2 separate regions of the Homo sapiens genome follow, and region 2 is linked to region 1. Evidence: fine-mapped expression QTL. A gene starts in region 1. The other region holds a variant in brackets. All regions are shown on one strand. Distances are from middle to middle.

Evidence for each region.
Region 2: its variant is fine-mapped to the expression of SCN11A in hypothalamus (GTEx, PIP 0.98).

The regions. Positions count from the first base shown.
Region 1 is chr3:39,048,414-39,061,188 of GRCh38, forward strand. SCN11A (sodium voltage-gated channel alpha subunit 11) reads right to left here and starts at 3,531. Exons shown (of 30, transcript NM_001349253.2): 1 at 3,448-3,531. It overlaps WDR48 (WD repeat domain 48), which reads left to right and starts at 3,603. Exons shown (of 19, transcript NM_020839.4): 1 at 3,603-3,660. The coding sequence starts at 3,613. RefSeq lists enhancers at 2,764-3,636, 3,307-3,396, 3,407-3,456, 3,477-3,666 and a silencer at 3,707-3,806.
Region 2 is chr3:38,954,695-38,967,469 of GRCh38, forward strand. It overlaps SCN11A (sodium voltage-gated channel alpha subunit 11), which reads right to left. Exons shown (of 30, transcript NM_001349253.2): 3 at 5,589-5,729. Among named protein-coding and RNA genes, the nearest start is that of SCN11A, 91 kb to the right of the region's middle. The variant AG/A (reference allele first, on the strand shown) is at 3,584.

The DNA.
Region 1 (12,775 bases):
ATTACAGCTAGGTAGAAGGAATAATTTTTGGTGTTCTATATCACTGTAGGATGACTATGATTAACAATAATTTATTCCATATTTTCAAATAGCTAAAAGAGTGGATATTGAATTTTCCCAAAGCAATTATTACAGATTGTATACAGGTATCAAAATATCACACTGTACCCCATATATATGTACAATTATTATGTGTCAATTAAAAAATACATCCACAAATTTATTGATACTTCATAAAAAAAGGAGTCATCTAATCCCCTCTCCTTAGACACTGATGGCCTTAGTAACTAAGTTCTAATGAATTGACTATGGCTTAAAGTGACACTGCATGACTTCCACTGTGAGTTTAGAAAAAGCATTATAGCTTTCAACCAGATTTTTCTTCTTCGGGATGCTCATCCTTGGAACCCAGTTAGCATATTGTGAGGAACCAAATAGTGCTGTGGAAAGATCATGAGAAGGTGTTCTAGCCACAGCTTTGGCTAAGGACTAGGCCAACACCAGTATCAGTCACCAGACATGTGAGAGAAGGGGTCTTCAGATGATTCCAGCCCCAATCTTTTAGCTGCCCCAGCTGATGTGAAGTGGATAGTGGAACAGAGACAATCTGTTCCCATGAAGCTCTGCATAAATTACAGATTTGTAAGTAAAGTAAGGGTTGTAATTGTTTTAAACCATTGCATTTTGCAGATGGTTAAACAGCAATAGATAAAAGGAACAGGAAAAAAGAGTGCTGAATATTGGACAGTAGTTCAGAGCATATACTGCATCCTACAGGACAGTATCAAAAAGGGTTATCTCCCAGAAGGCACCATAGCTAAGTCTTCAATATATCTTCAATAAGACAAGATACTTCTCAGTGATTGAGTACACAATTAGACCAATAAATTCCATGGGCAATAGCCCATTGCATTACTTCTTTCATTGCAGAGTGAATTTCTTGGTCAAAAGCAATATAGTGTTAGAGAAAATGATAGTGTCTAAAGCACTGAGTAATTCCCTAGATGGTGGTGTCAGCGGAAGTACAGTGAGCAGGGAAAGCAAATCTCAATCTAGAATAAACATATTTTAGAGAGGACAAATAAGAACTCCCTCAATGATGGGGAGGGCCAATGACCAATGGAATAGACTTGCCTACATGTGACTGGCTGACCCTCCCAGAGCATGGGGTATTGGTCACTGCTTCTGAACACCCAGCGGTGGCTTGGTGATCCCATGCATAGCTCCAATCCTGTTGCCATTGCCATTGCCATTTATTTCATGATTCTACTGAGCAGGCAGTGAGGCTGAGTTTCATCACAAAGCAGTTCATTTCATCCATATGATTCTTAAGATTTATTCTGAGAGGTCCATCACTATATCCCTTCTGGAGTCTTCCTTGTCACTAGTTCTCCAGTCTTGCTCTTTCCATGTCCTTCACAAACTGGCCAAAAAATTATCCTCTGACCCTGAATTGACCATTTCTCCTTTCAGCCAAACTGAACATCAAAACATACTGGTGAAAATTCTGCCCACTGAAAGAACTTCACTATTTCAATATTTTTCAGGTCCAAAGCAGGACTACAACATATCAATTTCTAGCAAGTACCAGTATATTGTCCAGAGCAACATACCTGTATTGTATTTTGCACATCATAGGTGCTCAATAGACACTTAAGCAATTTTTAAAATACAGACATATTATTTCCCTACCTGTATTTCAACAGCTTCCCATTGGTCTAAAAGATCCTGCTGGGTATGGCCTCTGCATACTCCTTTCACTTCTCTGTACTCTAAGCCTTGACTCTCAGTTCCTGTAATGTTCCATGCTCTCTCCTGCTACAAGACCTTTGCTCAGACTGTTCCCTCTCCTTGCCTAGTTAACTCTTGACTCAAGATACTTCCTGTCTTACAATCATCTTTCTTCATAGTACTTATCTCTGTATTAATTCCTGTCTCATCCTGGGACTCTAAGTTCTATGACTATGTGCACTCACCACTGATTCCCCAACACCTAATATAGTGCCTGGCATATATGATATGCTAAATAATATTTTGTTAAATGAATGAATACATGAATCAGTGAATGAATAAGCCTGTAATGATGCAGTAATTTACCTATAAGTTATCACTGCCAGTTTTGCTTAAGAAGCTTTCTGCCATCACAATTTTTACTCATCTAATTCACATTTCTTTATTAATTTAAGAAGTATTTGTCAAGACAACTTTTCTAAGCATTACTTATATACTAGCACTATGCAACAGAAATTTGTGACCACATATGTAATTTTAAATATTCTAATATCCATGACAAAATTAATAAATTTTATTTAGCCTAATATACCCCCAAACATCATTTCAACATGAAATCAATACAAAAAATTATTAATGAGATATTTTACATTCTTTTCTTCAAACTAGTCTTTGAAATTTGGGGGTAGTTTACAATTACATATCTCAACTGGAACTAGCTATATTTCAAGTGCTCAAGAGCCACAAATGACTAGCAGATACATCATATGCTATATCCCACAGTGTAGTTCTATAGGATTCACTTTCACTAGAGAGGGTCTGATCACCCTCAGCTCTTATAATTAGTGGTCAGGAAAACCACCTTAAGTCAAACCTAACTGTTCCAGTATAAGAGATGATTTAAACTAGAATTGTCTCTGGGAACAATTTTAGCTGGTGTACCGTTTTCGCCTTCCTATAACATCTTTTTGTCTTGTTTTTTTTTTTTAAACTTTTAAGTTCAGGGGTACAAGTGCAGGTTTGTTATATAGGTAAACTTGTGTCACGGGTGTTTGTTGTACAGGCTATTTTGTCACCCAGGTATTAAGCCTAGTACCCATTAGTTATTTTTCCTGATCCTCGCCCTCCTCCCACCCTCCACCCTCCGAAAGGCCCCAGTGTGTGTTGTCCCCCTCTTTTGTGTCCATGTGTTCTCATCATTTAGCTCCCACTTATAAGTGAGAACGTGCGGTATTTGGTTTTCTGTTCCTTTGTTAGTTTGCTTAAGGATAAGGGCCTCCAGCTCCATCATGTCCCTACAAAGGACATGATCTCGTTCTTTTATGGCCCCACTTTTTATCCTTTTAATTTAAACGGATTCTTTGCTCCCCCTGAAGATGGAGGCCACCTCCTTTGCAAGGACTTCTATCTCTCCCCCTTTGAGGCCACGACATAATTCTCCGCATTTTTAGGTACTTAACAGTAAATCACTTGGTTCACTTGGTTCTCCTGCCTGCCTAGGAAAGGTCAGGAGATGGTCCAGCGCCATGTCTAGCACTGTTAATTCTTTCAGTGCTTTCGTTTTGCTTGGGCCTCTCGGGGAGGGCGCGGAAAAGAGCGCAAGCCAGGGTCTAGGACCACACAAGTGAATTCGTGTTGCTCCCTCAGCCCTGAAAAGTGGCTCTCTCCCCATCAGCATTATACTTGCACAGTGGTTTTGTTTTTAGGTGCATCTACCTCATCACATGGCTACCGGCCACACAGCAACTAACAGCACCGAGGAAACACAACAGCCTGTTTACCTTCAGCCCCGCCACTAACCCTTGGCCAAAGGGAAAGGGGCAGGACATCCTCCCGCTCTGAGCCACCTCCGGAAGTGACGTCGGAGTGTCAACATGCAAGATGGCGGCCCATCACCGGCAGAACACAGCAGGGCGGAGGAAAGTGCAGGTATGGAAGCCCGGTTCCTCGGTCTTCCGGACGCGGCCGGCAGCTCCGGGCCCACTCCAGCTAGAAGGTGCCCGGCGCCACGACCAGCTGGGGTAGCGGCATGGGGCGAACGGGGCGGGGCGCGGCCGGCCACGAGGGGTGGGGCCGCGGCGCTAACGGCTTGAGGAAGGGGCGGGGGTCGGCTTGCTTGGCCCTTGGGGCCCAGGCCCGGGACCCTCGTGGGCGGCATTCTGAGCCCGGGATTGCTTGTCGCCGCTCTTCTGTAGGAGTGGACTTGCGGGGTCGGGATAGGCTCGTTCCCCGCCCACTTGCCTCCCCCTTGCCCTGTCTTTCTTCGAAGCGCTCTGCCCTCGCTGCGTCGGAGCCGAGGCCTCCAGGGGTTTCCCAGGGGGGTGGGCGTTGGAGGAGTGAGCGGCTTGTGCGGGGGCGTGGCGAGGCGGCGGAGCGCCAACGGCCCTGCGGGGTTTCTGCTGAGGATTCCGCACTTGGGAGCCCCCAGCCCTCTCTTATGTGGGAGCTGTCCCCTGGGTAGGTTTAAGTGACATAAGAATGTGCGTGGGGAAATTATAATTTTAATTGTTTTGGTATTTAAGTTCCTCTTCACCATTTCTTCATCTTAAGTGTGCATCGCTGAATCTGTCTTTATTGTTTGTGTAATTTATTGTCCATGTGGTAAAGAGTTGTCTAATCTTACCGTGTGTGTCTTGTGCCTTATGCCTTTGTGAATTCACTTTTGTTTGCGGTTACGCTTAAGAGTTACTGCCACTTCGGGGAACATCACACACCGGGGCCTGTCGGGGGCTGGGGGCGCTAGGGGAGGGATAGCATTAGGAGAAATACCTAATGTAAATGACGAGTTGATGGGTACAGCAAACCAGCATGGCACACGTATACCTATGTAACAAACCTGCACGTTGTGCACATATATCCTAGAACTTAAAGTATAATAATAATATTAAAAAATAGTTATTGCCACTTAATATTTTCAGTGATGCAGGGAATAAAAGCCCTCTTACAGGTGTTTGCCTGCAGGTATATTGTATGTGGTAGTGGCAGTTTGGTGCATTTATTCATTAAACATTTACCTAGCACTTAGGGTGGCCCCCAAAGGGGAAAAGGGATTGAAAGGGTGTAGAAATAATTAACACCTAGGCTTTCTTTATAAAACACAGCATTATATGGAGTTCTGCGGGTTGAAATCAAGTGTCAGATAAAGGTAGTTAGATGAAGGGGTCCTTCAGTAAGGTAATCCCAGCAGAAGGTGGTAGGCCATAAAGTCTTCTGATTAGTTCACATCTTGGTTTTATTGATCTCACTGATCAGTACAGTGTCTTAAGCACTCACTGGATGTTTGTTGAAATGAGTGAAATTAATAAGTCTAAACTCACCCTATTAGGTGTTTTTCAGTGCATTAGTGATAGGATTTAAGTATCACCAGCATCCAAGGCAGGTAGTGAGAATGTCTCCTTGGGACTGAAATATAACTCAAAAAGTAACCCGATTGTATTATAGACTCTATGGTGGTGTACATCTTAGGAGAGTAAGGGTAGTTAATCAGGCCTTTCAGTTTATTGCATTAAGACTTAAAACTCCTATTACTGCAGTGTGTTCCCTGCTTGCTTCCTTCCCAGGCCTGCCCACTCCCAAAATGCATGCAATAAAGTATATATATTTTAAAAAGACTTACAAGGCAATTGTACTAGTATGGGATGGAGAAAATGTAAATTAACTGCAGCAGGTTTGGAAAAACAGTGTTCCAATAGGCTGAATGTGAGCCAGTGCACGTAGAATGAGGCAGGTGATAGATAATTCCACTTTTCACTGGTCAAAGTACAAAATTAGAGTTTGGTGTTCAGCACTTAGGACCTTGTTCTTCATAGGTAGCAATCAGATTGGTGAACTGACTTGAAATTATTTCCTATGAAGAACTTTTGAAAGAGCTGTCTTAGATTAACCTGCTGAAGAGAAGATTCAGGGAACTTTCGGAATTTGTCCCTAAGGTATAGAAGCAGCCTGAGAAGCCACAGGGATTGATTTCATCTGAACCATCATTGTCTATGAGGTGTTTTTTAAACTAATGCGTGTTCATTGTAAAAATCCCAACAAACAAAAACATAAATTAGAGTTGCCCTCCATGCTTCCAAGAAAGCTACTGCGGGCAATGTCATGTTTTAATCCTAGACCAGAGTTTATCAACCTGAACATTCTTGAAATTTCATCTGGATAATTCTTCGCTGTGTCTGAGGGAGGGAGCTGTCCTATGCATCACAGGTTCTTTGGCATCATCCCTGGCTTCTACCAACTAGATGTAGTAGCATCTCCCCAGTTGTGACAACTAAAAATGTCTCCAGACATTTTCAAATGTCCCCTCAAGGGCAAAATTGCCGCTGGTTGAGAACCGCTGTTCTATACCTCTTGCTGTTTGTGTACCTGACTTAACATATTTTTTTGCTATAAATGGAGCCATAGTATTCACTGTTTTGTGTCTTGCTTTGTCAAATTTTTAAATAAACATTCCCTTTAGCCCAGAATTCCTTATCTAAAAATATATTCTACAAAATTGCATATGCATGTATCTGTCCCTACTTATGCAAGGGTGTTGTGTGAAGCCATTCTTGAATTGCTATAAAGAAATACCTGAGACTGGCTCATTTATAAAGAAAAGAGGCATAATTGGCTCATAGTTCTGCAGGCTTTACAGGAAATATGGTGCTAGGATCTGCTCGTCTTCCAGGGAGGCCTCAAAGAGAGAGAGAGTCAAAAAAGCAAGTCAACATGGCATATTCCCATTTCCACAAAGGAAATATGCATTTTAAAAGTCAGGAAGGGTAATAGCAGTGATTATCCCTTTGGGAATAGATTGTGTGATTATAGATAAGACAGGACATGGGATATCTTTTAGTTTGAAATATGCACAACTTTGTATTTTTGAACTTTTTACCACATTATTTGCTCTTATACATCAAAAAGAAAACTTCTCATCTTGGAAAAAGCATACATGGGTACTTGGAGTAAATATACTTTGTCTCCTGACTGTCTCAGACCACGAGACAGTAGCCCTGAGCTCCTTGTCAAGTTGTAGGCCAAGACAAACCCTTGAGACTTAAAAATATTGCTAAATAATCAGTGGAGGCCAGGCGTGGTGGCTCATGCCTGTAATCCCAGCACTTTGGGAGGCCAAGGTGGGCAGATCACTTGAGGTCAGGAGTTCGAGACCAGCCTGGCCAACATGGCGAAATCCCGTCTCTACTAAAAATATAAAAATTGCCGGCATGGTGGCGCATGCCTGTAATCCCAGGTACTTGGGAGGCTGAGACAGGGGAATCGCTTGAACCCAGGAGGCGGAGGTTGCAGTGGGCCGAGATTGTACCAGTGCACTCCAGCCTGGGTGACAGAGCGAGACTCCATCTCAAAAATAAAATAAAATGATACTTAAAATCAGTGGAGAGGGGTCCAAACATACTGCATATTAATTGTAGACATAATTTTAAATGAGTCCATGTCCTACCATCTTCAACTTCTAGGAAAACTAGAGATACGAGGGAAGAGGGATGGATTTGTGACTGTCAGAAACATAATCAAATATGTGAATTCAGATACATGATGTAGCATTTTCTCTGGTAACCAGGATATCAAAGCAAGTCTTTTCCATCCTTAGCAGTCCCTTGGTGGTATGATTTTCCAGCAACCTGAGTCTGTTGATTGGCTCTCTGTGCCTCCATTTTTCCTCCTGTTATGGCCTCTTCCTTCAGTGCTTCACAGTGCTTGGGGAAAAAAAATACTTCGCTTAACTTGCTGCCACTTCTAGTTAAGCTCTTTCCCCAGCTAAATGCCAAGAGGACTTTTGTGCTCACTACCGTATCCTCAGCATTTAGAATAGTGCCAGGCAACAAGTGGGTGCCTAGTTAATATTCGTTGAAAGAATTAAATCCATTTTCCTCTATTTTTCTATAGCCAGACATTTTAAATTTTTTCTCTGTACTTTAATGGATGCAGATAACAAGTTTTTAAGGTGACATGTCTTGAAACATATCAGCATATATAGTTTTCGTTCTTTAATGACCACATAGAATGGATGTACCATAATTTGTCTAGCCATTTCCTTATTGAAGATATTGCTTTGATTTTTTTTCCATCATACTATAATTTGCTTTGAAAAAACCTCCAGTTATAAAATAGTAAAGGAAGTGTTACAAAAATAAATGAAAGGACAAAGATAGATAATACAGAATGCATAAAAGATGAGGGATCAGTTTGAAAGTTCCAGTATCTGACTCATTTGAGTTCAAGAAAGAGCAAAGAAAACAGAGATGATGATTAATAATGGATACAAGAAAATTTCCCGGAGCTTAAGTGCCGCAAATTTCTAGATCGAAGGGGCTTTCTAAATGCACAGAAAAACTAATGATAGAAAAAACAAACAAGAAATGTCACAACACCAAGGAAAAAGAGAAAATCCTGAAAGCTTAGGGAAGGAGATGACGAGGGAGTGGAGGAAAGAATGAAAATAGGATCCCTTTAAAGCTGTATGAAACAGAATGGCATTGAAATCAGTGGCAACATTGGATGCTAGAGGAACTTACAGCAATGCTTTCAAGAGCTGAGAGAATTGCTAAATCAAGTGTAAATGTGGAGGAAAGACCTTTTCAGGCATGCAAGGACTAAGTTGCCAACCCATGTGCCTTTTCTTATATTACTTTCTTAAGGTATTGGGGATGTATTTCAGCAAAACTATGGAGTGAACAAAGAAAGAAGGAGGCATTAGAATTCAGGAAACAATGGCTGTAACCCAGAAAAGCAGTAAAGGAAAACACCAAAGGTGACAGCTGTGCCAGCAGATCTAGAGGGCAGTCAGCCTAGATTGTAATGAGAAGAAGGAGGGTTTGGAGGGGGAAGCCTTCTGAGAAAATAAAGGGGTGGGGGTGAGTTCTGTGGTACAGCAATTAAAATTGAAATTAAAGTGGAGAAAACCATTGAAGAAGGAAAAATTAAAACTCTAGGGAAAACAAAAAGCTCTTTGAGGAAGGAAATGTATTCATAATATAGTACTTAGTAGATAGCCTTACAGTCACAACAATATAGCACGGATTATTTGTTCAATTAAAAATAGGGATGTATCTATATTAGAAGAGTAGAGGGAGGAGATATTGAGGGTAGTTTCAGAACTACATCCTAATCTACAGTAGCATGAGTAAATCGATAATGTCTAAAATGGATGAGCCAAAAAGTTATAGGATAAGCACAATATTTAGAGAAATGCAGTTAACTATCCAGTAGCAACAACTGAGTTGCAATTAGTTACCTTTAGGGATGAAGACTAGGTGTGGGAGTCTTATCCAGACAGTAGAGAGACTGTTTTTCATTACAGTCATTACTATTTGATTTTCTAAATACAAGCAGGAATTACTTGGATAACAAATGATCAAATTTTAAAAACTAAGTAATACATGTTGTTTGTAAAACATTCAGAACACATGAAAGAGACATGAATGAGTGAAAAATCACCATAATCCCATCATTCAGAAATAACTGCTGGTTATTTTATTTTATTTTTATTTTTATTTTTTTGAGACATTGTCTCACTCTGTCTTAAGGCTGGAGTGCAGTGGCACCGTCATGGCTCACTGCAACCTCTGCTTCCTGGGTTCAAGTGATTCTCCTGCCTCAGCCTCCTGACTAGCTGGGACTACAGGTGCGCACCACCACACCCGTCTAATTTTTGTATTTTTAGTAGAGACGGGGTTTCACCATGTTGGCCAGGATGGTCTTGATCTCCTGACCTCGTGATCTGCCCGCCTTGGCCTCCCAAAGCTGGGATTACAGGCATGAGCCACTGCGCCTGGCCCCTGGTTATTTTTATATATGTATAGTCTTCAAAACTTGTGTATTTGTTCTGAAATATTTAATATTTTGAAACATTTTTATAATAATGACTATTGTACATTGTTGTGTTGGACCACACATATTTCACTAAAAATATATCATGGCTTTCCGCCCATGTTTATCAGTCTAGACCTCCATCAACTCTTTCTTATTCTTTAGAAACAGGGCTCTCATGCTGTTGCCCAGGTTGTAGTACAGTGGTGCCATCATAGCTCACTGCAGCCTCAAGCTCCTGGGCTCAAGCAGTCTTCCCACCTCAGCCTCCTAAAGCACAGAGATTACAGGCATGAGCCACCACACCTGGCCTACATCAACATTTTAAGTGATTGAATAGTGTTGTGTTTTACAGATGTGCGTGCTAGAATTTATCCAACTAGGATACTTCTAATTCTTTTGCATTTTAAAGCACACGTCTTTAGGAAATACCGTTGAAGAGGTTGGCCCAGACTGGTTTTAACAGTAATTACTTTCCACCTAGAATGAGAATTCTGACATTCAGGTTATTCTTTCACTCTTGCCTTAACCAGTCAGATAATCTCCCAGAAGTCTGGATATCAAGATTTAGATATGCTGCACAGTCTCAGTTAAAGGAAATGTGAGCTAGGTAAGCAGCCCTGGAACCCCAGAGAAAGAGAGATTGAGAGAGGCTGAAGTTGACATTGAAGCTAGCTTGGTTCCTGGTGGCTTTGGAAAGCCAATTCATGCAATGATACGTATGTCTTTTATATGCCAGACACTATAATGGGGGCACAGGGGTGGAAGGAACAAGGCAGACAAGTCCCTTGCCTTCTTGGAGCTATTATTCTAATGGAGAAGATACACCAAAAAATATAAATGTGGCTGGGCGCGGTGGCTCACACCTGTAATCCCAGCATTTTGGGAGGCCAAGGTGGGTGGATCAGAAGGTCAGGAGTTTAAGACCAGCCTGGCCAAGATGGCGAAACCCTGTCTCTACTAAAAATACAAAAATTAGCTGGGCGCCATAGCAGGCACCTGTAATCTAAGCTACTCGGGAGCCTGAGTTGGGAGAATTGCTTGAACCTGGGCAGCAGAGGTTGCAGTGAGCCAAGATCGCACCACTGCACTCCAGCCTGGGCGATACAGTGAGACTCCGTCTCAAAAAAAAAAAAAAAAAAAAAATACAGAATGTGGTAAGAACTGTTAAATAAGTAATGTAAGATAGATAGGGTCATAACCCTGAGGAGAATGAGATCAGAAAGGCCTTTCCAAGGAGACCTTTCTCCTAAGATCTGAAGAGTAAGGGTGAGTTAGACAAGATGAAAGCTGGAGAAAGAGTATTCCTATAGGGATTCGAGGGGTGGTGAATCTTCATGACACTGGCAACAGTAAATGAGAAGGTACTGGGATGGGAAAGAGCTTGATGTGTTTACGGTAACAGAAAGGAGTTTGGAATGACTGTCATAAAAGAAGCTGGGGGCAGTCAGTTTGAAATGAGTGGGGGATGCAGGGTCAGAACTAAGCATTTGAGGAGTTTGAACTTTAAATTTTGTGAAAAGCCATTGGAAAGTTTCAGCAGAGAAGTGTCATGATTTGATTTTTTAAATGCCTCTTATAAATGATGACTGTATTTCCTGACCTTGGGCTCTGTTAAGATATCCTTGTGTTGAAGTCTCCTTTAAAAAACAAACAAACAAACAAAAGCTGGTTTGAGTAGATCTCAGTTACAGTTAATTGCATCCAAAAGACTGGGTTAAAACAACATCCTTGTAGCTATTTGTGTCTGCAGCCCTGGCCCTTTTTAAAGGACAAATTTCTGGAAATTGAATTTTAAAGAACATTTCAAAGAGTTTAAAACTTTTGTCAGAAAGTGTTTATTTATCCTCAGGGGAAACAAAAATGGCAGTTATTTTAAAAAATTCTTGTATTATAGGTAAAATAATCTCATATTAATTTTGTCTTTGATTATTTATGGGGTTTTTGGCCATTTCTTTTTTAAAAAGTCCCTTTTTGTAACTGTCCCTCTTTCTGTTGGTAAATTTGACTTTTTCTTATTTTATAAGGAATCTTGTTAAGAGTAAACTTTCTTTCATATTTATTTCATTATTCTCTTAGTCTTGCTCGTGTTACTTTTTGACATTCAGAAGGTTTAAGAAAATAATAACATTGTGATAAAATTCACATACCATAAAGTGCACCCTTTCAAAGTGTACAATTCAGTGATTTTTTTGTATATTCGGAAAGTTGTTTATTGGTCACCTAACTCCAGAATGTTTAATTACTCTATGTTCATTAGCAATTACTCCCCGTTTTTCATTTTTCCCTCCTTCAATCTCCTGGCAATTACTAATCTACTTTCTGTGTGGATTTGTCTATCCTAGACATTATATATAAATAGAGTCATAAAATATGTGGCCTTTTGTAAAATATGTGGCTTCTTTCACTTAGCACATTTTCAAGGTTCATCCACGTTATAGCATGTGTCAGTACAGTGTGTGTGTGTGCATATATATATATATATATGCACACACACACATCACATTTTATTTGTTTTGTCCATTGATGGATATTTGGGTTGTTTCCACTTTTGTAACATTATTGTGAATGCCACAATGCTGTGAACATTCTTGTACATAGAAAAGGTTTTGACTTGTATTTGGCCAGATCACCATTGCTCTTTTCCTTCGTAAAGATTACCATCTTTCTTGGCATGTTGGAAGAGTTTTCTCTGGCAAGGGACTATGTAAATATTCACCTGTCTTTTAAAAATTATTTTTATGCTGGCCAGGTGCAGTGGCTCACGCCTGTAATCCCAGCACTTTGGGAGGCTGAGGCGGGTGGACCACTTGAAACCCAGCCTGGCCAACATGGTGAAACCACCATCTCTACTAAAAATGCAAAAATCAGCTGGGCACAGTGGCATATGCCTGTAATCCCAGCTACTCAGGAGGCTGAGGCACGAGAATTGCTTGAACCTGGGAGGTAGAGGATGTAGTAAGCCAAGATCGGGCCACTGCTTTCCAGCCTGGGTGACAGAGCAAGATTCTCTCAAAAAATAAAAACAAAAATTATTTTTATGGTTATTAAATTTCAGTCTTTAATTCATAGAAAAATTCGTTTTTGGTTTAAGATGTGGAGAAAGGGTATAATTGTTCCTAATAGAATCACTATAGGTACTTGAGATAATTTTTTTTAATTATTATACTTCAAGTTCTAGGGTACATGTGCACAACGTGCAGGTTTGTTACATAAGTATACATGTGCCATGTTGGTT
Region 2 (12,775 bases), 94 kb before region 1:
AAAAGTAACATTGGCCAGGCACAGTGGCTCATGTCTGTAATCCTAACACTGTGGGAGGCTAAGGCAGATGGATTACCTGAGGTCAGGAGTTTGAGACCAGCCTGGCCAACATGGTGAAACCCTGTCTCTACTAAAAATACAAAAATTGGCTGGGAATGGTGGCATGCACCTGTAATCCCAGCCACTCGGGAGGCTGAGCAGGAGAATCAGTTGAATCCAGGAGGCGGAGGTTGCAGTGAGCCAAGATTGTGCCACTGCCCTCCAGCCTGGGTAACCCAGCCAGACTCTGTCTCAAAAAAAGAAAAGAAAAGAAAAGTAACATTGAGGCCAGGTGCAGTGGCTTACACCCACTGGGAGGCCAAGGCAGACAGATTGCTTGATACCAGGGGTTTGAGACCAGCCTGGCCAACATGGTGAAAACCCATCTCTACTAAAAATGAAAAATTAGCTAGGTGTGGTGGCGTGTGCCTGTAATCCCACCTACTCAGGAGGCTGAGGCACAAGAATCGCTTGAACCAGGAGGTAGTGGTTGCAGTGAGCTGAGATCACTCTACTGCACTTGAGCTTGGGCCACAGAATGAGACTCTGTCCCAAAAAAAATGAAAGTAATATTGAAAACTGCAAAAATTGACCCAGGAAAAGGAAAACTGAATAAAAATTATGAACTCAAATAAATCTGACAAAATAAAACCACATGCAGTATGCAGTAAAATTTCCTTATTAACTGAAAAAACAATTAATGGAAGAATCAAGTATTCTTTAATAAGTAAACTCAGGAAAATTCGACTGTGAAAATCAAGGCTGCATCCACAAAATAGATAAAATTGATAAATTAATAGAAAATCAATATGGCACAAGCTGTAATTGGTAAAATTTGAAATGACTCAAACCCTTATGGTGAAATTTGTACAGAAATACTTAATTCTGAAAATTTTCTGTGCAGAAAATAGATTGCATTGCTAGAAAATTGATCAAAGAATTAAATTAGCTAAGTGCAATTATTTTCCAAGTCCTGCTAACAAATTTGAAGATAAAATTTTCAGATTCTGAATGACTCTTTACAAAAAAAATTACTTGAGTATATACTCCCAAACAATGAAAAGAGAATTCAGAAAAGCAGGATGCATGGAATCCAAGACATTATGTCCTTAACCGAAGAGTGCAATAAAATATTTCTGGTCAACCACACATCAATAGGCTTAAGAAGCAATTGCTCAACCACCATGGCACATGTATACCTATGTAACAAACCTGCACGTTCGGCACAAAAGCCCGGGTATGGTGTCTCATGCCTGTAATCTCAGCACTTTGGGAGGCTGAGGCAGGCAGATCAGGAGGTCAGGAGTTTGAGCCCACCCTGGCCAACATGGTGAAACTTCATCTTTACTAAAAATACAAAAATCAGCCAGGTGTGGTGGTGCGTGCCTGTAATCCCAGCTACCTGGGAGGCTGAGGCAGCAGAATCACTTGAACCCTGGAGGTGGAGGTTGCCATGAGCCAAGACTGAGCCATTGTACTCCAGCCTGGGTGACAGAGGGAGACTCCGTCTCAAAAAAAAAAGCAAAAACAAACAAACAAAAAGAAGCAATTGCCCTGACAGAAAAGTCAGAGAATCCTGGGAAAAATATTTAAACTATAAAGAAAATTTTATGTAACAAAAAATATGTTTCAGAAAATGGTTTTTCCAAATGTTAAAAGAAAGGTAATGAGAAATTCCATCAAAATAAGACGTACTTCAAAAGTAATGGTTTATAGACAAAGCCAACTAAATGATTTGAACCCTGATACCCTGCCATTTTGACAGGAACCTTGGTAAGGAACATCCTTCAGTATAACAGGAAAAATAAGATAATTCATTTGACCTTGACCTTGAATGTGCAGCAGATAGTAACATCAGGGTCCATTCCTTTACCTTTATTATGGGTCCAAATATAGTACAGTTCTTGGTTCCGGAAAATAGTAGCTACAAAATTATGATATAATTCAGGTTATCTATTAGTTTTTAATTTTCACAATCATCCTAAAGATAAAGCAGAATTAATTATAATTATAGAGTAGATTACAAATGCTATAAATGTTATAAAATTTTACTACAAGCTGAAGTCGGAGAGAAAAAGTGAAGGGAAGATTAAAGATACCAATTTTCTCACCTTAAACATTTAGAGAGTCAAGACACTCTATGAAAGGTTGGTCAAGCCATACAAAAATAAGTTTATACCTTAAAATTACACAGATAAGTACAAAACCAAATTTTAAATACAGATAACAAAAACTGGAAGAATCATGGGGAGCCCAGAAGGATTACCATCAATAAGCTAAATTCCTCATCTCCCATAGGGACAATTCAAAAACTTCTACTCAAACTGTATAAATCAAGAAATAGCAGTGTAAGCTAATTTAAAGTTAGAGAGACCCCCTACAAATATATACAATGATTATTTTGTCAATTGAAAATTAAATAGTCCCTGGGCATAGTAGTTCAAAGAAAAAAATAAAACTTAAAAAAAAATTAAAGAGAGAAAATGACCAGAATTAAACACTAAAATGGTTAAAAGTGGGACTGAGCATAGGTGAAAGTGGAGACATTTTACTTTTAACGTTATATCCTTCTCAACATTTTCTCCTTCTAAGCTATTTGAATTATGTGCTTGTGTTACTTTTATAGGTTGCAAAAGGATTGTGAAAATCCTTCAGGGGATGAAAACATCTTCTGATTCAAACTAGAGAGACAAGATATCAAGCACGACAGGCTCCCAATCCCCTTGGGCCATGAAGGAAACAAGCAGAATCTCAACTTGCATGCAGTCTTAAACTGGGAGGCCGGCCACATGCGGGTTACGACTTGACGTGGGGAATGACAGAGCCTGGGAGAGCAGTGAGGAGGCCCTGCAAGACCTTCATGAGCCCAGGGGCCAGTCTTGCAGGGTGGCCAGGGCTACCTGTCACAGGGAACTCTGCAACTGCTCTTCTGTAGACTGGCCCACTCCTGCCGAATAGACAGAAAGCAAACACTCACCTAGGAGAGAGGACTAAGGCCTCACTTTCCAAAGCTGCAAGCTTTATAGAAGCACTTAGGCCTGACCTCCCATGGTTCATTCATTCATGTGCTGGGCACTGGGGATGCAAAGGGATATAAAGCACCAGCCTTCCAGGGTCTTCCAATCTGTGGAGACCAGGTGAAGAAATGACGGAGGATGAAACCATGCCATGTGTACGTCTGCACCAGAGGCAATTGTTGGGTGCTGTGGGAGCCCTGAGTGGGGCATGGTGACGAGGAATCAGAAGTCATTTAGCTGGGAGGAGGGAGGGAGGTGGCCTGGACAATAGGCAACGTAGTGTGAAAGCACTGAGGGCTGCACACGGACTCCTGGCTCTTATTTATGAATTCGCCTGTAGTTATAAAAGTCACATAGCCTCACTGTGCCCTCCAGCTCACTCTCCATCCTTCCCCACTCTGCTCAGTGATGCAAAGCTGACCCACATGTAGCCCCCCATGGGATCTCTCACACTCTGGCTTATGGCTGGGTTTGGTTGGTGAGAGGTATCCAGCAAGTGACCCGGAATATGATGGGAGAGTGAGGGC[AG/A]GGATTTCTCTTCCAGCTTTCCCCTGATGGTGGCCATGGGCCACAGTGCCTGTGAGGTGCCCATCTACAGGGCTCGCACCTCCCTTCCCTTGCCTCTTCTGATGTGGGGTGTAATGGCACCTCACTCTCACCAACCTGAGAAATGCACCATCACCTGCTTCTGTTATGGTACTCTGCCCACACCTTTGTAAAAAGTCCCTTTAATAAAATATCCTCACAATGTCCAATTTGAGCTTGCCATCTGTTTCCTGCTGGGGCCCTGGCTGATAGAGTCATTCACTAAATACAATTTAGAAATCAGGAAAAGGAAATTATTACCCACAAGCCATAGCCATCTAATATGTACAAGTTTTAACATTTTAGTGTATCTCTTTGCAGTAGTCTTTTTGTCCATATATTTCATATGACTGTCATTGTCCTGTATAACAATTTTAAATGGTGACTTTTTCACTAAACCCTATAACAAGAACATTTTCATAAAGAAAGCTACCATTTCATAGTGTCTATGCTGTTCCAGGTGAAATTTGGAGTGTGTTAACTAACATACATTATCTCATTTAACCCTCAAAACAATTTTATGAGATATATATTATTCTTGGGGATATCTGAAAGAAATGTTCATCTAGAATGAAGGTGGATTATTTATGGCCTTCTCTTTAAGGTCAGAGGCTTTAACCTTATACCTTCCTTGCCTGGTGTTTCTAGCTTTCTCTTTTGGCAAAGAGCAAACTGATACTGTGATTCTCATACTTTATCCTAACCAGTAAGGGAAATCGCAAGATGTTTCCAACTGCTCACCTGGAACATTTCAGCATAGATCTGGTCCACACAATCTGGAATGCCAGAGGTCCACACTGAGGTTAATAAGAATTATGAATTATGGGCTAAACAAAGGGGCAAATGCTTTAAATGGATTATCTTTCAGAATTTCCCCCAGAAATCTACAAGGTGGGCATGATTACATCATCCCCATTTTGCAGAAGACATTAGGTCTTACAGAAATTGAGAAAACTTGCTTATGATCACATAAGTAAGTGCTGGAAAATCTCAAGCCGAAACAATTCCATTCCAGGCCTTATACTCTTAGCCACCATGCAATTCCTCCTACGTGCCTAGTTCTTCTTACTTAAAACTAAGATATCCCCAAGGAGATGGGAGAAAGGAGTCAAGAGGAGAAAGCCTCACAAGCTTCCAACTGGGCTGGTATGCGTCTATGGCAGCCTCACTGTGTGTGATGTGGCCTCCCAGGACCTCAACCCACTGCCACCTCCTCATTCACATGTCAGTCCTACGGGCATTCCACTGGCCTCACCATGACACTCTCATCCACCACCCAAGTCAGACAGCTTAATGGTAGACATGCCCTACAGAAAACCTCCTCATTCATTTTAGGTGTAACCTGAACAAGTTCTTAACTTTGGTGACACATAATCCATATTTATTAACGTAAGTTACAAAAAAAAGATATCTCTTTCCCTCTTCATAGATCCCATAAGAAAATCAGAAAGCAAACGAACATGATCAGAGTTTAATGAAATTGATCTCAATTCAAAGTCAATCCCAAGATTAGTTTGCTAGCTCTTCAGTAAAGAAATCATGCATGTCAATTTCTGATTAAATAAATTGGCCACGGGGAATTCAGAAAATATTTGGAGGATTTTTACCATCGCCTCAGTTGGAGACAAGATTTGAGATGACCTTTTCTAGCAAGGTCCAATTGCTGGCACAAAGTCCAGGGTTGCAAGCGCCTATTAGGCCAGCTGGCCATCTCCTGTCCCTGTGAGCCCATGACCTCTCAGTGTATTTGACAGCAGGGAGAACAACCCGATGGACTCCACCAGCTGAGCCATATATCTCGTACCCGCTCTCTGCTTCTAATTTGATCAGAAAATAATCACAAAAGGCCTGTACTCTACCCTGATGAGAAAAACAAACCAAGTTCCAGGTGGCAGGTCCCAGACTTGAAAGAACAGAACAGGCCTGCACCCGGCCCAGAGGACTTACCTGACTTCTTGGTAAGGTGGCTCCAGACAGCAATCCCAGCGATACTTCTTGAAGCTCTCCACAGAGCAAGTCTCTCAGCAGAGTTCGAGCTTCTGCTCCTGGCAGCTGCCTGGAGCCCTTCTGGGAGGAGCGGCTTGGAGGCTGGGTGGAGAGTGTGGAGGAAGGCAAATGGGAAGAAAGCCAAAGTGATTTTAAAGAATTGTGTAGGAAACCCTGTAACCGGAGAAGTGACTGAGAGGGTACTTACATTTATACTTTGGAAGCATCTGCCTTTAATCAGTGCTTAATCTAACTCTGCAGAAAGCATCATTAATAAAGAAACAGGTTGTTGTTTTTTTTTCTGTGGCCTGATCCAAGTGGGTGAGGGAATACAGAAAAGTCTGTGTGAAAAGCCAGGTTGTGCTTCCGCATTAAGCTTAAGCTGCAGGCCTCCTAACCCAGTGTTCTGGGGTCTCACCCCCCACAGGACCCACTGAGGCCCACACAACATGGAATTGCTTACAGGGTGTCCATTTGGCATCTCCTCCTTTCTCTTCTCTTGTGCCATTAACCTTGGGGTTCAGACCTAGAAAAATATTGATAACATGCATGCTTATGTGGTGGCCATAGGGATGCCAAGAGAACTTTTGGTCATCCAGACAACTCTGCAGCAGACTGTCACCAACCCAAAACTCCCCCAAGTAAGCTCTTAGTGTTTTTTTTGTTGTTTGTTTGTTTGCTTTTTATTCCTGGGGAAAATTTAAGTCTCCCTGGAAAGTATCACACCATAAGCTATTGTCACCTTCAGGAGACTAGCTGACAGTCAGCTGAGATAAAGGGTACAGGGTGAGTGTTTACAAGGAAGTAGGTGCTTACGGGAGTGCAGGATGGGAAACAGGAAATTTTGGTCCTGCCACAAGGGGCGCTGAATACTGGTTTCGGCTCCACCACTTCTCAGCTGCATGTTATTGGAAAGATCACTTAGTTTCCTGAGCCTTAGTTTTCTCCATGTTAAATATGATAATTCTTTCAAATCTTTTTACTGTTAAGAAGCAAATGTGATAATAGCTCTAAAAACACTCAGCAAACACTAAATCGAAGTATCTGTGGATTTTTAAGAGGAAAAATGCCTGGTTGCTTTTCTCCCCCTACTAAGCCAACACCCAGGTCCTCTGGAGAGGAATTGAAACCACAGACGTGGGATCAGCCCCTGGCCTGGCATGGAGCATATGGCTTGGGTTTTTGAAGCAGGAATCAAAAATTCTAAGCCCTTGCCTGGTTTCACAGTGACTCCCAGAATAAGAGAAGACCAAAGAATAAGAGAGGTACTTAGAGTTAATAAGCACTTTTTACATAAATGCAACGTGTGTGTTTGAAAAGGTAAGAGGACTCCGAATCCATTATCTTAAAGAGCCCTGGCCTTTTGAAATGTAGACTCTTTAAAAAAATTATTTTTCTGATAGGATTGTTTGGGTTTTTTTTGTTACTGATTTGTTTGAGTTCTTTGTAGATTCTGGATATTAGACCTTTGTCAAATGTATAGATGGTGAAGATTTTCTCCCACTCTGTGGGTTGTCTGTTTACTCTGCTGAAAAGCTCTTTAGTTTAATTAGGTCCCAGCTATTTATCTTTGTTTTTATTGCATTTGCTTTTGGGTTTTTGGTCATGAAATTCTTGCCTAAGCCAATGTCTAGAAGGGATTTTCCAACGTTGTCTTCTAGAATTTTTATAGTTTCAGGCCTTAGGTTTAAGTCTTTAATCCATCTTGAGTTGATTTTTGCATAAGGCAAGAGATGAGGATCAAGTTTCACTCTTCTATATGTGGCTTGCCAATTATCCCAGCACCATTTGTTGAAAAGGCTGTCCTTTCCCCACTTTATGTTTTTGTTTGCTTTGTTGAAGATCAGTTGGCTGTAAGTATTTGGGTTTATTTCTGGGCTCTCTATTCTGTTCCATAGGTATATGTGCTTATTTTTATAGCAGTACCACACTGTTTTGGTGACTATGGCCCTATAGTATAATTTGAAATCAGGTAGTGTGACGCCTCCAGATTTGTTGTTTTTTCTTAGTGTTGCTTTGGCTGTGTGGGCTCTTTTTTGGATCCATATGGATTTTAGAATTGTTTTTTCTAATTCTGTGAAGAATGATGGTGATATTTTGATGGGGATTGTGTTGAATTTGTAGATTGCTTTTGGCAGTATGGTCATTTTCACAATATTGATTCTACCCATCCATGAGCATGGGATGTGTTTCCATTTGTTTGTGTCATCTATGATTTCTTTCAATTCCATCAAAAAGTGGGCTAAGGGCTGGATGCGTTGGCTCACACCTGTAATCCTAGCACTTTGGGAGGCTGAGGCTGATGGATCACCTGAAGTCAGGAGTTCAAGACCTTGGCCAACATGACAAAACCCCATCTCTACAAAAAACACAAAAATTAGCTGGGCATGGTGGTGGGCGCCTATAATCCCAGCTACTCAGGAGGCTGAGGCAGAAGAATCACTTGAACCCAGGGAGCGGAGGTTGCAGTGAGCAGATATCATGCCACTTCACTCAAGCCTGGGCAAAAGAGTGAAACTCCGTCTAAAAATAAAAAATAAAATAATAATAATAATAATAATAGTGGGCTAAGGACATGAATAGACAATTCTCAAAAGATATACAAATGGCCAACAAACGTGAAAAAATGCTCAACATCACTAATGATCAGAAAAAAGCAAATCAAAACTACAATGTGATACAACCTTACTCCTGCAAGAATGGCCATAATTAAAAAATCAAAAAACAGTAGATGTTGGCGTGGATGCAGTGAACAGGGAATGCTTCTACACTGCTGGTGGGAATGTAAACTAGTACAGCCACTGTGGAAAACAGTGTGGAAATTCCTTAAAGAACTAAAAGTAGAACTACTATTTGATCTAGCAATCTCACTATTGAGTATCTACCCAGAGGAAAAGAAGTCTTTATTAAAAAAAAAAATAATCTGTACATCCATGTTTGTAGTAGCACAATTCACAACTGCAAAATCATGGAAACAACCTAAATGCCCATCAATCAATAAGTGGATAAAGAAACTATATCTATTTGATGGATATATATATATATATATATATATATATATATATGATGGAGATATATATATATATATATATATATGATGGAGATATATATATATATATATATGATGGAGATATATATATATATATGATGGAGATATATATATATGATGGAGATATATATATATATGATGGAGATACATATATATAATGGAACACTATGCAGACATAAAAAGGAATGAATTAACAGCTTTTGCAGTGACCTGGATAAGATTGGAGGCTATTATTCAAGTGAAGTAACTCAGGAATTGAAAACTGAACATCGTATGTTCTCACCGATATGTGGGAGTAAGCTATGAGGATGCAAAGGCATAAGAATGATACAATGACTTCGGGGAGTCGGGGGGAAGAGTGGGAGAGAGGCAAGGGATTAAAAAACTACTAATATGGTACAGTGTAGACTGCTCGGGTGATATGTGTACCAAAATCTCACAAATCACCACTTAAGAACTTACTCATGTAACCAAATACCACCTGTACCCCAATAACTTACAGAAAAATTTTAAAAAATTAAACAATTTTTTCTGAACAATTAAGTCACATTTAAGTCACATTCAGACTTCCTGAAGTTTCAAAGAATCTTTCTAGCTTCATCTTTAAGGTAAATGCAAATGATTCCAAGTGTAAAGACTTAAGTGACAAAGAATAATACACACACAGGTCACTTGAGTGGAGTTTGCATTCAGGACTTTTCTGTCCTGTGGGAAATTAAAACATGTGTCTGACAAATGGAGCAGAGCACCTGTGCTGGGTCCACATTGTAAGAGGATGTCAACAACAGACACGTTCAGAGGCGCCCCACATTTGCATCCTTGGAGCCACACAGCACATTGCCGTCCCTTGGTGATGGCAGGCAGCAAGACCCTGCCAGTCTCAGTTCTGCCGTCTGATGAGGAGTCTGGCTTCAGCATCAGTGGCCAGGTAAGGTGCATCAGCTTTAGCAGCAGCAACACCTCCCATCTGCTCATTTAGCAAAGATGACATTGAGCCGCCTCTACTGCAGAACACCATGCTGTATCCTGAAAACATTAAAACAAGACCTTAGGTCTTTAGGAGCATGCATCTGCTGCATGAGAAAGAACAGGTGTGCTGAGAAAGAACCATAAAAAAGCAAGAGATCATCAAGGAGCTGCAAGTAAGATACAGAGGCTTTCACAGAATGGGACAGGGAGCAACTCGTTCTGGTATGGCTTCCGAGAAGAGGTGAGATTTAAACTGAAGCATAGAGGATGACTAAGAACTCAACAGGTGGAGAAAGTGGGGATGGGCTTTCCATGAAAAGCAGGTGCAAGGGCACACAGGCTTGGAGGTACAAGCATGTGTAGACAACCTCTAGTGGTTTCATGGAGATGTGGTATTGCCAAAAGGAGGAGCATGGAAGAAGAGGAGGCAAAGTTGAAGGGATGCCTTGAATACCTCTTGCATACCACCAAGGAGTTCAAACCTAAATTTGTATTGATTCACACAGCAGGCATGATACTGGCACCGTCTCAAGCTCTCGATTACTTTAGGCATAACCACCAAGTCTTCTGTTTCCCTGATGTGGGCCACTGCTGACATCCATGCAAATAAGCAGATGTCAATGGACAACGTTCAGTGTAGGATGAGTGCCGCTTAGAAGAGTGAACAGCCAAAGTGAACAGAGCATTGTGTGGGGAAACTGAGAGTAAGCAAACCAAAAGAACTGGCTGTGACTGATTCTTCAGAGACAGCTCTGAGGAAGCACAGAATCCGTGGCTAGGAAGCACTTCCTCCAGGGTTCTAATGGAGACTCCTAGTAGATCCTTACAGAAAGCATACTCATTGAGAAGAGTTTCATGATCTTGTTCACTGCCGTGCCGTGATTAAAACAGTGCATGTCACTTAATAGGTGCTTAATAATTGTTTGTGAATAAATAAAATAACTGCTAACCTCCTCATAGTCCTTTCTGAGACCCAGCCCTGGCTCCTCAATCTTGTATGTCTGGTCCTGGGAAGGAGGCCCTGCCAGGCCCCTGTAAGACAACGTTTGTAAGGTCTGGTTTCTTCATTCCCATCTTTTGTTTCCAGCCAGCTTCGCCCAGTGCAAGCCCTTCTCACCTCTCATCTTGACCATCATGAAGGCCTTCACAATCGACAGTCTGCTCCAGTTTCCTCCTGGTAAGCTGTCCCTATCCTGACCACCCCTGTTCCAGCCACATCTTGCTCTTCTCTGTTCCCTGCCCTGACCAGACCTTGTGGCCACTCTGAGTCTTGCTAAAGTCGCAGTGCTCTCCTCTTGCCTTTCTTCTCACGCATTTCCCAATCTCTGAATTTCTGCTGCTTCTGTGAAGCCTTTCTTTTTCTTTTTTTTTCATATGACAAGGTGTTTATTGGAGTCTTAAGAATTGCAATTTGGAAGACACAGATTCGACTAGAAGTCAGCTTGTGTTCCAAAGAAAGGGAGGGGAGTATGCATTTTTAAAAGGAAGCCGAGGCCTGGGTATGGTGGTGCACACCTGCAATCCCAGCACTTCAGGAGGCTAAGGCAGGAGACTCATGGGAGCCCTGGAGGTGAAGGCTGCAGTGAGTTAGGATTGTGCCACTTTACACCACCTTAGGTGACAGAACAAGACCCTGTCCCTTAAAAAAAATTAAAAAAAAAAGAAGCTGAGGATGATTATGCAAGTTGTTTTGAAAAAATATATATCACTGGTAGAGGCAGCTGGCTTAGTACCTGAGATCATTGGTTGTTTCTGTTCAGAAGTTGCAGCGCTGGTGAAATTCAGCTGCTTTCCAGAACGTTGCCATCAAGGCTGTTTGGCCCAACCCAAAAATTCGAGGCAAGTTTCTGAGGGTTTTTGTTGTTGTTGTTTGCAAGGTTGCAGGTCGTCAGTCCTCCCTAGAATGGCTTCCTGACTTCACTTTAGAGATCTGAACCAGAGGGACATCATTTTGTGTATCAGTTTCACATAACAAAGGAAATTAACATTTGTTAATGTCATAGTTCATTATTATCATTATAGATCATTCATTCATTACAAAACAAATAAATTATGTAATTTGAGGTAGGAGTATTTTACAAAAAAAAGATGAAGCAAGGTAAGAGGAGAGAGTAGCAAGGATTGTACATTTTTATTGCTATACAATATTTTATCCATTTATGGGGTATATTTGATTTTGTTGCATGCATAGAATGTGTAGCAACCAAGTCAGGGTATCTGGGCCGGTATCCATCACCTTGAATATTTATTATTTGTATGTGTTGGGAACATTTCAAATTCTCTCTTCTAGCTGCTTTGAAATATAGAATACATTGTTGTTAACTACAGTCACCCTACTCTGCTGTTGAACATTAGAACTTATGCCTTCTACCTAACCGTATGTTTGTACCCACTGACCAATCTCTCTTCCTACCACTGCCCTCCACATCCTTCCCAGCCTCTGGTATCTATTATTCTCCTTGGCTTCTGTGAAGCCTTTCTTGACCATGTTTATGCAGTGCATTGCATACTTTCATGTTTCAAAATTATTTTAGACATTGCCTTTGTGTTTTGGTTTGGGTTCCCCCAGAAGCATTAGACAAGCACTCCAGTGTGGGAGTTTATTTGGAAAGTGATCTCAGGAAACAGGATTGAAGGAATGAGGAATGGAAAGCTGAGAAGGAGAAGCCAATAAAGGGTGTGCACTTGAGATGATTACTGATATGGCCAACTGTGGCTCAGCCTCTCTAGAGACTGTCTGAGGAACCACATAGAATGTACTTGAATATTAGGAGGCTGAAACATCTATCCTCTGGCTTACATTCCCTATTGTCAGAGATGCCATGGTAACCAGCCTCCAAGGCAGCCCAATGATCCGTATCTCCTGATTTTCACTTTCTTGTGTGGTTCTATCCCAAATTGAACAGGGCTGACGTGTGTAAACAATAGAATATTGGAGAAGTGACAATGTGTAATTCCTGAGGCTCAGTCATAAAGGGCATTGCAAGTTTTGTCTTGCTGTCTTGGATTGCTCACTCTGGAAGAAGCTAGTTGCCATGCTGTGAGGACACTCAATGAGCCCTACGGAGATTCCACGTGGGGAGCATCTGAGGCCTCTTGTCAATAGCCAGCACCAGCTTACCAGCCATAT